3 separate regions of the Homo sapiens genome follow, and regions 1 and 2 are each reported to be linked to region 3. Evidence: microRNA targets listed by miRTarBase, many of them from high-throughput screens and not tested one by one. Region 3 holds a microRNA gene; each other region holds the end of a gene's coding sequence. Distances are from middle to middle.
What was found. The annotated mature microRNA hsa-miR-610 reads UGAGCUAAAUGUGUGCUGGGA and lies in region 3 at 2,919-2,939, opposite strand. An mRNA with a match to its seed (bases 2 to 7 or 8) in the 3' UTR can be bound and repressed. Matches are read on the target gene's strand: a 7mer-m8 pairs with bases 2 to 8, a 7mer-A1 pairs with bases 2 to 7 and ends in A, and an 8mer does both.

Region 1: the mRNA of TMEM135 is a reported target of hsa-miR-610. Seed matches in the 3' UTR shown: 7mer-A1 at 2,924-2,930 and 7mer-A1 at 624-630.
Region 2: the mRNA of PNPLA6 is a reported target of hsa-miR-610. Seed matches in the 3' UTR shown: 7mer-A1 at 409-415.

The regions. Positions count from the first base shown.
Region 1 is chr11:87,320,874-87,325,119 of GRCh38, reverse strand. It overlaps TMEM135 (transmembrane protein 135), which reads right to left. Exons shown (of 15, transcript NM_022918.4): 15 at 1-3,919. The coding sequence ends at 3,787. It also overlaps the pseudogene LOC100420680. Among named protein-coding and RNA genes, the nearest start is that of TMEM135, 290 kb to the right of the region's middle.
Region 2 is chr19:7,561,221-7,565,466 of GRCh38, forward strand. It overlaps PNPLA6 (patatin like domain 6, lysophospholipase), which reads left to right. Exons shown (of 32, transcript NM_001166114.2): 31 at 1-97; 32 at 268-544. The coding sequence ends at 342. Among named protein-coding and RNA genes, the nearest start is that of PNPLA6, 28 kb to the left of the region's middle.
Region 3 is chr11:28,055,523-28,059,768 of GRCh38, reverse strand. It overlaps MIR610 (microRNA 610), which reads right to left and starts at 2,954; the gene lies at 2,859-2,954. It overlaps KIF18A (kinesin family member 18A), which reads left to right. Exons shown (of 17, transcript NM_031217.4): 13 at 608-843.

The DNA of each region.
Region 1 (4,246 bases), 59 Mb from region 3:
TCCTTGACACTCCTTTCTTTGTTAATTCCACAAGAAGAAGAAATTATAGAGCTGGCACCAATGGTGGCTTCAGCACCAATAGTAAAGGGCTGGAGGCAATTGTAAACATCACCTCCACAATGAAGGTAACCTTATTACTCATCACATTCAAAGTGCAGCCCTAAAGAAAATAATCACTTCTTATTCCTTTTCTTGTATTTTTTTCTTGGCCACTCATTTTCAGCTGAGTGAAGTATTCTACTATGTGAAAATGATTACTAGAAGGAGGTGTTAGGAGAGAGAATGTTTATAAGATATCTTAGTAAGAAATGTATACTTTTGCCTTTGGGAAACAAAGGACAACTTTGTTGCTGTGTCAAACTACTTAATACTCATACAAATAAAAATATGGCTAGGTACCGTGGCTCACACCTGGAATCCCAGAGTCCCGGGAGGCCAACCCAAGAGGATCACTTGAGGCCAGGAGTTTAAGACCAGCCTGGACAACATAGCAACACCTTGTTTCTACAAAAAAAAAATAAATAAAATAAATATTAGCCAGGCATGGTGGCACATGCCTGTTGTCCCAGCTATTAGAGACTGAGGGGAAATAATTGCTTGAACCAAGGAATTTGAGGTTTCAATGAGCTATGATTGCACCACTGTACTCCAACCCGGGCAACAGAGCTAGACCTCAACTCAAAAAATAAAAAAATAAATCACACGGAGAATTTAAGGAATCTCTGGGCTAATAATTTCTCTGCTCCAAAAACAACATTTGGGCCATTGCTCCAGTGGTCAGTTCCCTTCAGTCCCACAAGAAGCTTCCTAATTAGCACCAAGGGAGAGGTTGTGACACAGGCAAGTGGACGAAGCTCCCTGAGAGTAAAGGACATTGCTTTTCATTACCTATGAAATGTAGAGCACACAGAAGCTCAGGGATATGATAAAATATAAGCAGGAAACAATTACGTCAGCATTAACAACTAAATGAAATGTTAGCCTAGATACAATCTACAAGGAGACGAACACTCGAGCACAACAAGAAAATACTGTGTGACATTTGCTCAGTTTGGATTCCATCAAAAACATACATGTTCAGTCTAATAAAAGTTCATTATAAAATCTGAGAGCCAAAAAAATATAAAATTCTAAATTAAATAACAACTGACTAAACAACGAATGAAGGCAAAAAATAAACTAGATATCAACTGAGTGATGACTATGCTTATAGTTCAAGAAAAAAGTTACAGAAGCAAAAGCAGAATTTATGGGAAAATAAAACTAAACCAAAGGTGTTACTTCAAAAATGAGTAATAAAATGGATCCTGAAATTATTTGATGAAAAACTGCTGAGAATTGAATAGATTTGAGACAATCTGTTATCTTGCAAACTCAATCTTTACTCGGTTGCTACTAGTTCTAGGATTTTATTAAAACAGAAAATAGCAACGAAATGACCATAATACCACTGCCCCAAATGCACGGTTTTTCAATCTCAATCTATATAAAAATGTCAGAAAGACTAAGGGGACATATTATTGTTTACTGTAATCAGTTCCAGTGAAAACTTACCATTTCTTCAGGATATAAATAAACTAAAAAACATATTTTGGAATGCAGAGATCTATTTTACTTTATTTATAATGCCAAAAAGTTGTCAATCAATACCTGATTAGTTAGAGGTAGAAAGGTAATCATTCTGATTGTCTTCAAAAACACAAAGTTTCTTTGTGTTTGCTCAAACAACTACACTTTGCAGTCTGTCCCAATGAAATCAAACTGGACTTCTCAATCCACCACTGCAAATTGGTTATTCACTCAACCTATACATTCATCATTGTATTCTGCTTCATGATAGCTATTTCATTTTACATTTTACATAAAATTTAAAAAAATGACTGCAATTTATAAAAATGAAAAGGTAAATTGTAGAAATACACCTTTTTGACCAGCAAAATTTTACTAAACAATCTCAGCAAATTTCGTAATTCATCTTTCAATATCACAGTCTTTTAATGTCAATGAAAACAATAATTTATGAATTAAAACATCTTTTTAAACCTGACAGGAAAATATATAAGCACAATTTCTGGATAAAGAAAATGAGGTGCAGTTCTCAGGGCTTTAGTACTTCATTTTAAACAGTAAACACAGTACCAACCATCGTTTTGATTCCAGTGAATAAAAAGTTAAGATTAAATTTATTAATCAACTTTGAAGTCTGAAACCGAAATGATCCTTTAACAGCATTGCCAAATAAACAGGTCAGTTCTACAAAGCTAATCATAATGCCAAATTTTGACCAAATGATAAAGTGGCTCTGTTACCATAGTACCAGAGTCTGTCTTTTTGTTGGGTTTCTGTTTGCCATAACAACCAAGGATTGAATTACATTTAAGCAGAAGTATACAAGGCTTGATGAAATTGAATATGAGGGATTAAGCATTTTTAAAGTATGGGTTATAATTCCTTTTGCAACACAAGTTCTACTGCATAATTTGCACTGGCCTAAAAACTTTTTAGCAACAAAATGTATTTTAAAAATATCATCATCCCTACATGTCACATTAACTGTAGACCACTTCAGCTCTTTATTAACATAGAAAAGTATAACTTTTCCCTGAAAAACTGTAAATAGCGACCATATTTCAATCACAGCTGTCCTGAACTACTCTCATTATCAGCAGGACTTTATGGTGTCACCTCTTTATTCTAACAGTAAAAATGGTGACAATGATATTCAAGAAGAAGGTTGGAGAACCTGAATGGAATTAGTGACAAATGGACTTTTTAAACAACCACTGGATTTTTATAGTGTTTTCAGGTGCAAAACATCCATTACATAAGTTAAACAGCTGAGAGGACACAAACTGCCAACTTGCCAAGACTACTTTGTTCCATAGGATTTTGATCCCTTCTAATACAACAATGGCATATAAACTGAGCTATGAAGGATTATGTCCATATAAATGAAAACAAACATCATAAACCTATAGGAAGTTTAAAAGTTTTGTTTTTAAATATTCAAGTGTAATACTTCTGTGAAAGATTAAAACATACATTTCAACTTTATCGGATGTGTCCATTTCCATTTGCCCCTAACTTGCCATTAGTACATAGGTTCACTGGGCTGCCAAATAGCCCAATTAACTGGTCATGAAGAGAGATGATGTTATTAGTTGAAAAAAAGCATGGATACCACGACATTTATCCAAATGGTATGAGACCCATCTTTGCATCCCTGAAGTAAGAATGGCCACTTCTCCAATTAAATTGCTCTACACGAAAGCAGCACTGTCCGTGGAGAGTTACTTCAAATCTATAACATTCCACTACTACAGATACCAATTCAAAACTTTAAAAAAATATATAGACCAAATCCATGTACCCGTGATCCTTTGTAAATCCTAAAATGTAGAAATAATCCTAATTTTAATCAAGAATTATATTGGAATGAACTAAAGACATCTTTTAAAGTAATTTTAAGTGTACTCTTGTTTGTTATTACACTTCTACGTAGATTATATAATATTGCTTGTGGACATAATTTGATCAATAATATATAATGTCAGTCACTACAGTGATCCAGAATCTTATTCTGGCTATGGAGGAAGCTTAATTATTAAGCAACATCTTCCTAAAAAGCTTCTGAATTTCTGATTCATAAGAAAAACAAAACAAATGAAAAGAGTATCTCTAACTGAAATAACACTGAAGTTCGAGCTTGGGCCCCCTCCTTTGTGTTCAACATAATTAACTCTTCAAGATGAAACATTTAGTCACATTAATAAGTTACAGTCATCTTCAGGAAAACTCTGTGGGCAACTCTGGTGTTACAGTTGTGTATCTTGGATCCAACCTGGGGATGAAATCCTGAAAGTGTTTAGATGCACCAGTACCAAAAACATCAAGGACTTTTCGGTTCATGACAGCAAATCTGTAAAACAAAGAATACAGTAAACAAGTATTAATATAGTTTATAAAATAAAATAATTCATTTTAGTTGACTTATCTTATGTGGGATGGGAAAACAGAAAAGGCTAACGTGGCAAAGGATCTAAATTCAATGGCAGATTCAAGTCACATGAAGGCTCTTCTTCGAGATACACTGTCTCATATTTTATTTAAAGAGATAATCCAGTTAGGATTAAGGATTAAAGAGATAATCCCCAGATCTGAAACCGCAGAGATTACAACCATTATTTTAAACCCTTCTAGAATTCTTTCCACTAGACTGTATCAAATAGAAAATTAGGTTCATTAT
Region 2 (4,246 bases), not on the chromosome of region 3:
TTGTCTGACAGAGTATGAGGAGGACGCCGGACCCGACTGCTCGAGGGATGAAGGGGGGTCCCCCGAGGGCGCAAGCCCCAGCACTGCCTCCGAGATGGTGAGAGTGGGTGGCCCAGGGTCCCCTCACATCCCCCAGAGGGTCATGAGTACAGTGTCAGGCAGGGGAGCCGGGGGCGTATTTGAGATCCTGTGTGTGCTGGGTGCTGGCTGACATGTGACGCATCAGTGTCCCGTGCTGGGTGACGTGTGTGTGACCTTCCCTCGCAGGAGGAGGAGAAGTCGATTCTCCGGCAACGACGCTGTCTGCCCCAGGAGCCGCCCGGCTCAGCCACAGATGCCTGAGGACCTCGACAGGGGTCACCCCCTCCCTCCCACCCCTGGACTGGGCTGGGGGTGGCCCCGTGGGGGTAGCTCACTCCCCCTCCTGCTGCTATGCCTGTGACCCCCGCGGCCCACACACTGGACTGACCTGCCCTGAGCGGGGATGCAGTGTTGCACTGATGACTTGACCAGCCCCTCCCCCAATAAACTCGCCTCTTGGAAATGGCTTCCTGTCGTTTTCGGACTGGGGACCCACCTTCTGTGCTCAGGATGGCTGGGGCTGGGGTCTGACACCACCTGGTGCTTGCCCCCCACAGGGAATGCCTTTCTAGAATCCACACGGAGCCCCACTAGGTGCTTGTCCCCACTCTGCCCCTTCTCTGGCTCCTCAGAAGCCAGTGCTGACTCCGGACCACAGGGCCAGACATTCCGTGCCACCCTCCCGGGCTCACAGGTGCTCTTGGGGGCCCGATATGGCACCCCTCAATTTCTTTCTGTGTGTTTTTTGTTTTTTGTGTTTTTTTTTTTGAGATGGAGTCTCACTCTGTCACCCAGGCTGGAGGCTGGAGTGCAGTGGCATGATCTCTGCTCACTGCGACCTCCATCTCCCGGGTTCAAGCGATTCTCCTGCCTCAGCCTCCTGAGTAGCTGGGATTACAGGCGCCCGCCACCACACCCAGCTAAATTTTGTGGGGGGGTTTTTTGGTTTTGTTTTGTTTTTTGTTTTAATTTTTGAGACAGTGTCTCTCTCTGTCACCTAGGCTGGAGTGCAGTGATGCGATCTCAGCTTATTGCAGCCTCCAGCTCTTGGATTCAAGTGATTCTCATGCCTCAGCCTTCCAAGTAGCTGGGGCCACAGGCGAGCACCACCATGCCTGGCTAATTTTTGTATTTTTTGTAGAGAAGGGGTTTCACCATGTTGGCCAGTCTGGTCTCAAACTCCTGGCCTCAAGCCATCCACCTGCCTCAGCCTTCCAAAGTGCTGGGAATACAGGCATGTGCCACCACACCTGGCCTTAATTTTTGTATTTTTAGTAGAGACGGCATTTCATCACGTTGCCCAGGCTGGTCTCAAACTCCTGACCTGAAGTGATCTGCCCGCCTTGGCCTCCCAAAGTGTTGGGATTACAGGCATGAGCCTCCTTGACCGGCCAGAACGGTTTATCTTTTTTATGAGTGAATAATATCCCATTGTGTAGATGGACCACATGGTATTTATTGGTTCATCTGTTGGACGCTTGAGTTGCTTCCACCTTTTGGCTATGGGGAGTCATGCTGCTGTGAACACAGGTGTACAACTATCTGGATCCCTGCTTTCAACTTCCTTGGCTAGATGCCCGGGAGTGGAATTGTTGGGTTACATGGAGATTCTGTGTTGAATTGAAGAAACGCCAAACTTTTCCATAGCGGCTGCACCATTTTAAATTCCCACCGACTGTCAGTGCCTCGAGCTGTCAGCACCATGGACAGGGATGGTGCTGTCCGAGGTGCTACTGACGCCCCCTCTGTGTCTTTCCCTCCAAGCCCCCCCACCCCCGCCGATATCCCTGCGCCCTCCAGATCTCTGAGTTTTGAGGGTGGAGGGGGACATTTAGGGGAAAGTTCAGTCCATAGTTTGGCACCTACTGGTGTCTGTATCTTAACTGGCTCCCCTTCCATCCTGGCTCACAAGGCTCCAGTTGTACCAGCCTTCATTCTATTCCTCAAATTCTCCATCGATTCCTGGCTCAAAGCACAGAATTGGGCTTTTTACTCCCTGTGTAGCTGATTAAGCCTGTCCTCAATTGTCACCTCTTCGGACTGTGTACAGTAACTTCCCTGTTCCCGTTGGCCCCTGTCTCCTTGCCTTTAAAGCACTTCATTAGTCACAGTTGCTTCACTTGTTTTTATTGTTTTCATTGTTTATTATTACTATTATTATTATTATTATTATTATTATTATTATTATTATTATTATTATTATTTTGAGACAAGATCCCACTCTGTCACCCAGGCTGGAGTGCGGTGATGTGATCACGGCTTACTGCAGCTTTGACCTCCTGAGCTCAAGTGATCCTCCCACCTCAACCTCCCGAGTAACTGGGACTACAGGCGCGAGTCACCACATGCAGCTAGTTTTTTTTTTTTTTTTTTTGTAGATATGGGGGTCTCACCATATTGTCCAGGCTGGTCTCAAACTTCTGGGCTCAAGCGATCTACCTGTCTTGGCCTCCCAAAGTGATGGGATTACAGGTATAAAGTGTTGTTGGTGTTGTTGTTTTGTTTGTTTGTTTGTTTGTTTTTGAGACAGAGTTTCACTCTGTTGCCCAGGCTGGAGTGCAGTGGTGTCATCTCGGCTCACTGCAACCTCTGCCTCCCGGGTTCAAGCTATTCTCCTGCCTCAGCCTCCCAAGTAGCTGAGATTACAGGCAACCGCCACCACACCTGGCTAATTTTTGTATTTTTAATAGAGACGGGGTTTCACCATGTTGGCCAGGCTGGTCTCTAACTCCTGACCTCAGGTAATCTGCCTGCCTCAGCCTCCCAAAGTGCTGGGATTACAGGTGTGAGCCACCACACCCGGCCTAAAGTTTTTAATTAACTTTTTTTTTTTTAGAGACAGGATCTCACTCTGTTGCCTAGGCTGGAGTGCAGTAGTGAAGTCATAGCTCACTGCAGCTTCAACCTCCCAGGCTCAAGTGATGCTCCCACCTCAGCCTGCCAAGTAGCTGGGACTACAGGCAAGCACCACCACACCTGGATAATTTTTAAAAAAAAATTTTGGTAGAGACAAGGGTCTCGCTAGGTTGTCCAGGCTGTTCTCAAATTCCAGGGTTCAATTGATCCTTCTGCCTTGGCCATCCAAAGTGCTGGGATTACAGGCACGAGCCATCACATCAGGCCTCACTTGCTTACTTGTTTCTCATCTGTCTCTGCAAGACACACTTAAATATAAGTTCCATCACTGGAAGAACCTTGCATAGAACAGCACCTGGCTCATGGTAGGTGCTCAGTAAATGTCGAATGACATCAAGCTCCAAAGACGAAGCAAAGATCCCTGAGATAACTCCCACTCTCTCTCTTTCTCTCTGATTTTGTTTTGTTTTATTTTGAGATAGGGTCTGGCTCTGTTGCCCACCCTGGAGTGCAGTGGCGCCATCTCAGCTCACTGCAACCACGCCCAGGCTTAAACCATCCTCCCACCTCATCCTCCCTGGTAGTTGGGACCACAGGCACATGCCACCACACCTGGCTTAATTTTTGTATTTTTGATGGAGACAAGGTTTTGCCATATTGCCCAGGCTGGTCTTGAACCTGGGCTCAAGCAATCCAACTGCCTCAGCCTCCCAGAGTGCTGGGATTACAGGCGTGAGCCACCTCACCCAGCCGACAATACGTTTTTGTTGCTGAAGTCACCCCATCTGTGGAACTTTGTGACAGTGAATCCTAGCAAATTAACATAGAAGCCCTTGGCTAGACTCAGCTGCCATGATGTGGATGGTGTAATGGATCAGGCAGGACAAGTCAGGTTATGCCGCTGTAACAAATAACACCAAAGTCTTGGGGGGCAAAAACAATACAAAAGTAATTTCTGAGCTGGGTGCAGTGGCTCATGCCTATAGTCCCAGCTACTTGGGAGGCTGAGGCAGGAGGATTGCTTGAGCCCAGGAGTTTGAGACCAGCCTGGGAAACATAGCAAGACCTCATCTCTAAAAAACTTTTTAAAATCAGCTGAGCATAGTGGCATGCACCTGTAGTCTCGGCTATTTGCGAGGTCGAAGCAGGAGAATCGCTTGAGCCCAAGAATTCGAGGCTGCAGTGAGCTATGATTTCACCACTGCACTCCAGCCTGGGCGACAGAGTGAGACTGTCTCTAAAACAAAAGTAGTCACTATCTGGAATGTTTTGGGTCACTGTGACTGAGGAAAGACATCTCTGGAAGGCC
Region 3 (4,246 bases):
GTTTTGCAAAAAGCTTTTATGTACATTTAATTCATTTAGCTAGGGACAGTGGCTCATCCCTGTAATCCCAGCACTTTGGGAGGTGGAGGCAAGAAGATCTCTTGAGGCTAAGTGTTTGAGACCAACCTGGACAACATAGCAAGACCCCATCTCTACCAAAAAATAAAAAAATTAGTCAGTGTAGTGGCACACATCTGTGGTCCCAGCAACTTGGGAGCCTAAGGTGGGAGGATCAAGTGAGGCCAGGAGTTCGAGGCTGCAATGAGATGATCATGCCACTACACTCCAGCCTGGGCCACAGAGTGAGACCCTGTCTCTAAAAAATAAATAAACAAATATACTTAACTCATTTAGCCCTCAAAGCAATCTCCTATTATAAGTAGTGGCTATTTATCTGTCCCTCACATTACAGAGGAAAAACTTCAGTTTTTGCCTTGTCCAAGGTCATATGGAAGCAAGTGAAGACAATCTGAGACTAGAACTCAGTTCATACATGGGAAATTATTTTAATGATATGCTAATGCTTTGGGTGTTACATAAAAGAACTAAAATAATGTGTTTAAAATGTCATATTTATCTCTCCTTTCTTCTCATCTTCTGTATATAGAGTATTGAATGCTTTACTTCCAACCCTAAGAAAACAATATTGCACATTAAAAGAAGCCGGCCTGTCAAATGCTGCTTTTGAATCTGACTTCAAAGAGATCGAACATTTGGTAGAGAGGAAAAAAGTGGTAGTTTGGGCTGACCAAACTGCCGAACAACCAAAGCAAAACGATCTACCAGGGATTTCTGTTCTTATGACCTTTCCACAACTTGGACCAGTTCAGCCTATTCCTTGTTGTAAGTATAACTTTCGTTTTAAGTAAATAGTAACATTATTTCTAAAGAGAACCTTTGTATATCAATCTATAGAACAGTTAATTTTAATAGGTTTGTCTATTTTATGAAAATTAATGGGAAAATTAGCTTTATAGTCATTTCAATTAACCAGTATCTTCCAAAGATCTAGAACAAGTATGCATTGATGTTCTATATAACTCTAGCAGTAAAATTCATTTTACAACTCTTTTCTTTTTTTTTTTTTTTTTTTTTTTTTTTTTTTTGGTGACAGGGTCTCACCCTGTTGCCCAGCCTGGAGTCCAGTGGTGCAATCAAAGCTTGCTGCAGCCTCCACCTCCTGGGCTCTAGCAATCCTTCCACTTCAGCCCCACAAGTAGCTAGGAATTACAGGCATGCACCACCACTCCTGGCTTTTTTTTTTTTTTTTTTTTTTTTTCCTGTAGAAACAAAGTATCACTGTTACCCAGGCTGACCTCAAACTCCTGGGCTCAAGCAGTTGTCTCCCCTGGCCTCCCAAATTGCTGAGATTATAGGCATGAGCTGCTGTGCCTAACCCATTTTATCTATTTTTGATGGAACAATTTTGCTTCCCATCCTTCTTTAAAATGTAACCTCTATTAAGGGCAGGAAATTATAATTAATCATATCATATTTTATGATAATAATCTGTTCTTAAGATCAACTAACAGTGTAGAGTTTACTATTTTTCTATTGACAAATCACTTGATATTTCTCTTTCTCTCATAAAAGTATGTGTGAGACATTTTAATTGCAAAGCTAACATATAATCTTAGTTAAGAAAAAAATTCAGACAATGTAGAAGAAAAGAAGTAGACTGCCACCTTCAACTCTTCTCAGAACCTCAATTTTATGCCCTATCTCAGAGATTAAATGCTGTTAAATATTTATCTTTGCAGTATGTGTGTAATACACATGTATTACATAAAGCTTTTTGTTAGGTTTCACGTGAATGCTAGCACATTACACATAGTGACCTGCAACTTTTTTGTTTAGTTTATTATGTTTATTGGTTTTATTTGTTTATTATGAACATTTTTAGGGTGCATACATGAAGAATCTACCTCATTTTTTTATTGTTTTTGAGAATCCAGAGAATAGATGTACCATAATTTAATTAACCTTTTTTCTATTAGTGAACAGTACATCAGAGAACACATCTGTGTATTCACATTTGTGCGTGCATAGCAGAATCCTAGAAGCTGATTTGCCAGGTTAAAGGACATATCATTTTTTTTTTAATGCATCATGTTAAACTGCTTTTCATAATTTTTTTCTGTACTTAGTACCCATGAGAGTAACTGTTTCATCTTTACCTAAACCAAAAATAGTAACAACAGCAATAATAATGCATAGTCTTTTTTGTTTTGTTTTTTTTGTTTTGTTTTGTTTTGAGACCGAGTCTCGCTCTGTCACCCAGGCTGGAGTGCAGTGGCGCGATCTCTGCTCACTGCAAGCTCCGTCTCCTGGGTTCACACCATTCTCCTGCCTCAGCCTCCAAAGAAGCTGGGACTACAGGTGCCCGCCATCATGCCTGGCTAATTTTTTGCATTTTTAGTAGAGACAGAGTTTCACCATGTTAGCCAGGATGGTCTCAATCTCCTGACCTCGTGATCCATCCACCTCGGCCTCCCAAAGTGCTGGGATTACAGGCGTGAGCCACCGCGCCCAGCTGCATAGTCTTTTAAAATGTGTAACTCTCAGATTATCGATGAGGCCAATTCATCCCCTGTCAGGTATCCTTTGCTCATTCACACTAGTGGAAATTTTTGTTTATTTGTTATGGGTTTGAGGGGCTTTTTGTTTGCTTGGTTTTTTACTTGGCACTTCGTATCTAATAACTCTTTGTTCATTTGGTGCTGCTTTTTTTTATATATATGTTGAGCAATAATTGATCAATTTATTGGACTTTTAACTTTTATATAGTCAAATCTGCCTATATTTTCCATTATGGGGAATTTTCTTGGGATCTGGTGTTTATTAGCCCCTCACTCCCAACTAGAGTCCATTTTTCTTATGTGAGCTAAATGTGTGCTGGGACATTTGGCTCAAATGTGTCCCAGCACACATTTAGCTCACCTAAGACAAATAGACAAATAGTTGGGAGTGAAGGGCTAATATGTAAGACCTTATTCACAGAGAATAATAGTCTGTTGAAGTCAGATTTTATGTTAAGTGTTGCCCCTCTGAATACAATCTGTCTTCTGGCTTATTGAAATATTTCCTCAGTCTTTGGCTTGTAATAGTTTTATTATGTTATGCCTAGTTGACTTTATTTTTACTTCTCTTAAGTGGGTTCCTGACTTTCTGAATTTGTTTCTGCATTATCTTTTGTTTGTTTTGGAAAATTCTTAACCATTATCTCCTCACCTATTGCTTTTGTCACTTTTGCTCTCTCCTCTACTTCTGGGACTCCAATTATATTGCATGGCACTTTCCCATTGTATTGTCTATGCCCTTTACTCTTTTGCTTTTAATGTTTTTTTCTCTTCCTGGATAATTTTGTTTCTCACATTCTTCAGTTTACTTTCTTTTTTCAGCTTTATCAAATGATCCTTAAATCCATAAAATTTTTAATTTCAGTCGCTATATTTCCAATTCTGGAATTTCCATTTTATTCTTTTTTATAGTTTCATATCTTTGCAAAAATTGTTATTAAGCACAAAGGGTATAATTATAGTCAGCCATCCATATTCCATGGGTTCTGCATCCATGGATTCAACCAACTAATCAAAAAAAAAAAAAACATGGATGGTTTCATCTGTACTGAACATATAGACTTTTTTTGGTCATTATTCCCTGAACAATGCATCATAACTATTTACATAGTATATATATATAGTATTAGGTATTGTAAGTAATCTAGAGATTATTAAAGCATATGGGAGGATTGTATAGGTTGTGTGCAAATGCTGTATTATTTTATATATAAAGGATATGAGCATCCATGAATTTTAGTATGGTCATGCAACCTATCCCTCACAGATACTGAGAGACAACTATAATTTAAAGTCTGTGTCTGAGAATTCCAAAGTCTGTAACCACTGGATCTGTTTAGACTGATTTTCTTGCATGTGGTCTTAATTCCTCATATGCATGCAAATTTTTTGTGTGCCAGTCAGGTATTTGCAAAATTATTTGCAGAATATTTTGATGCATCTGATCATGATATTAAATATCTCAGAGAATATTTACAGTTCCTTCTTTCATATTCTAGGTAGCATTAGCAATTCAGAATCACCTCAGTCCTATTTCAGAGACTGAGGTAATTTGATACTAAACTGTAGTTTCCTGAGGTCCTGCCTATTTCTGATTTGCCCTCTACAGTATAGCTGTTCAGAGTCCCAACTCAAAGCAAGGAAGATTTACAAAGATCCTAAATTCC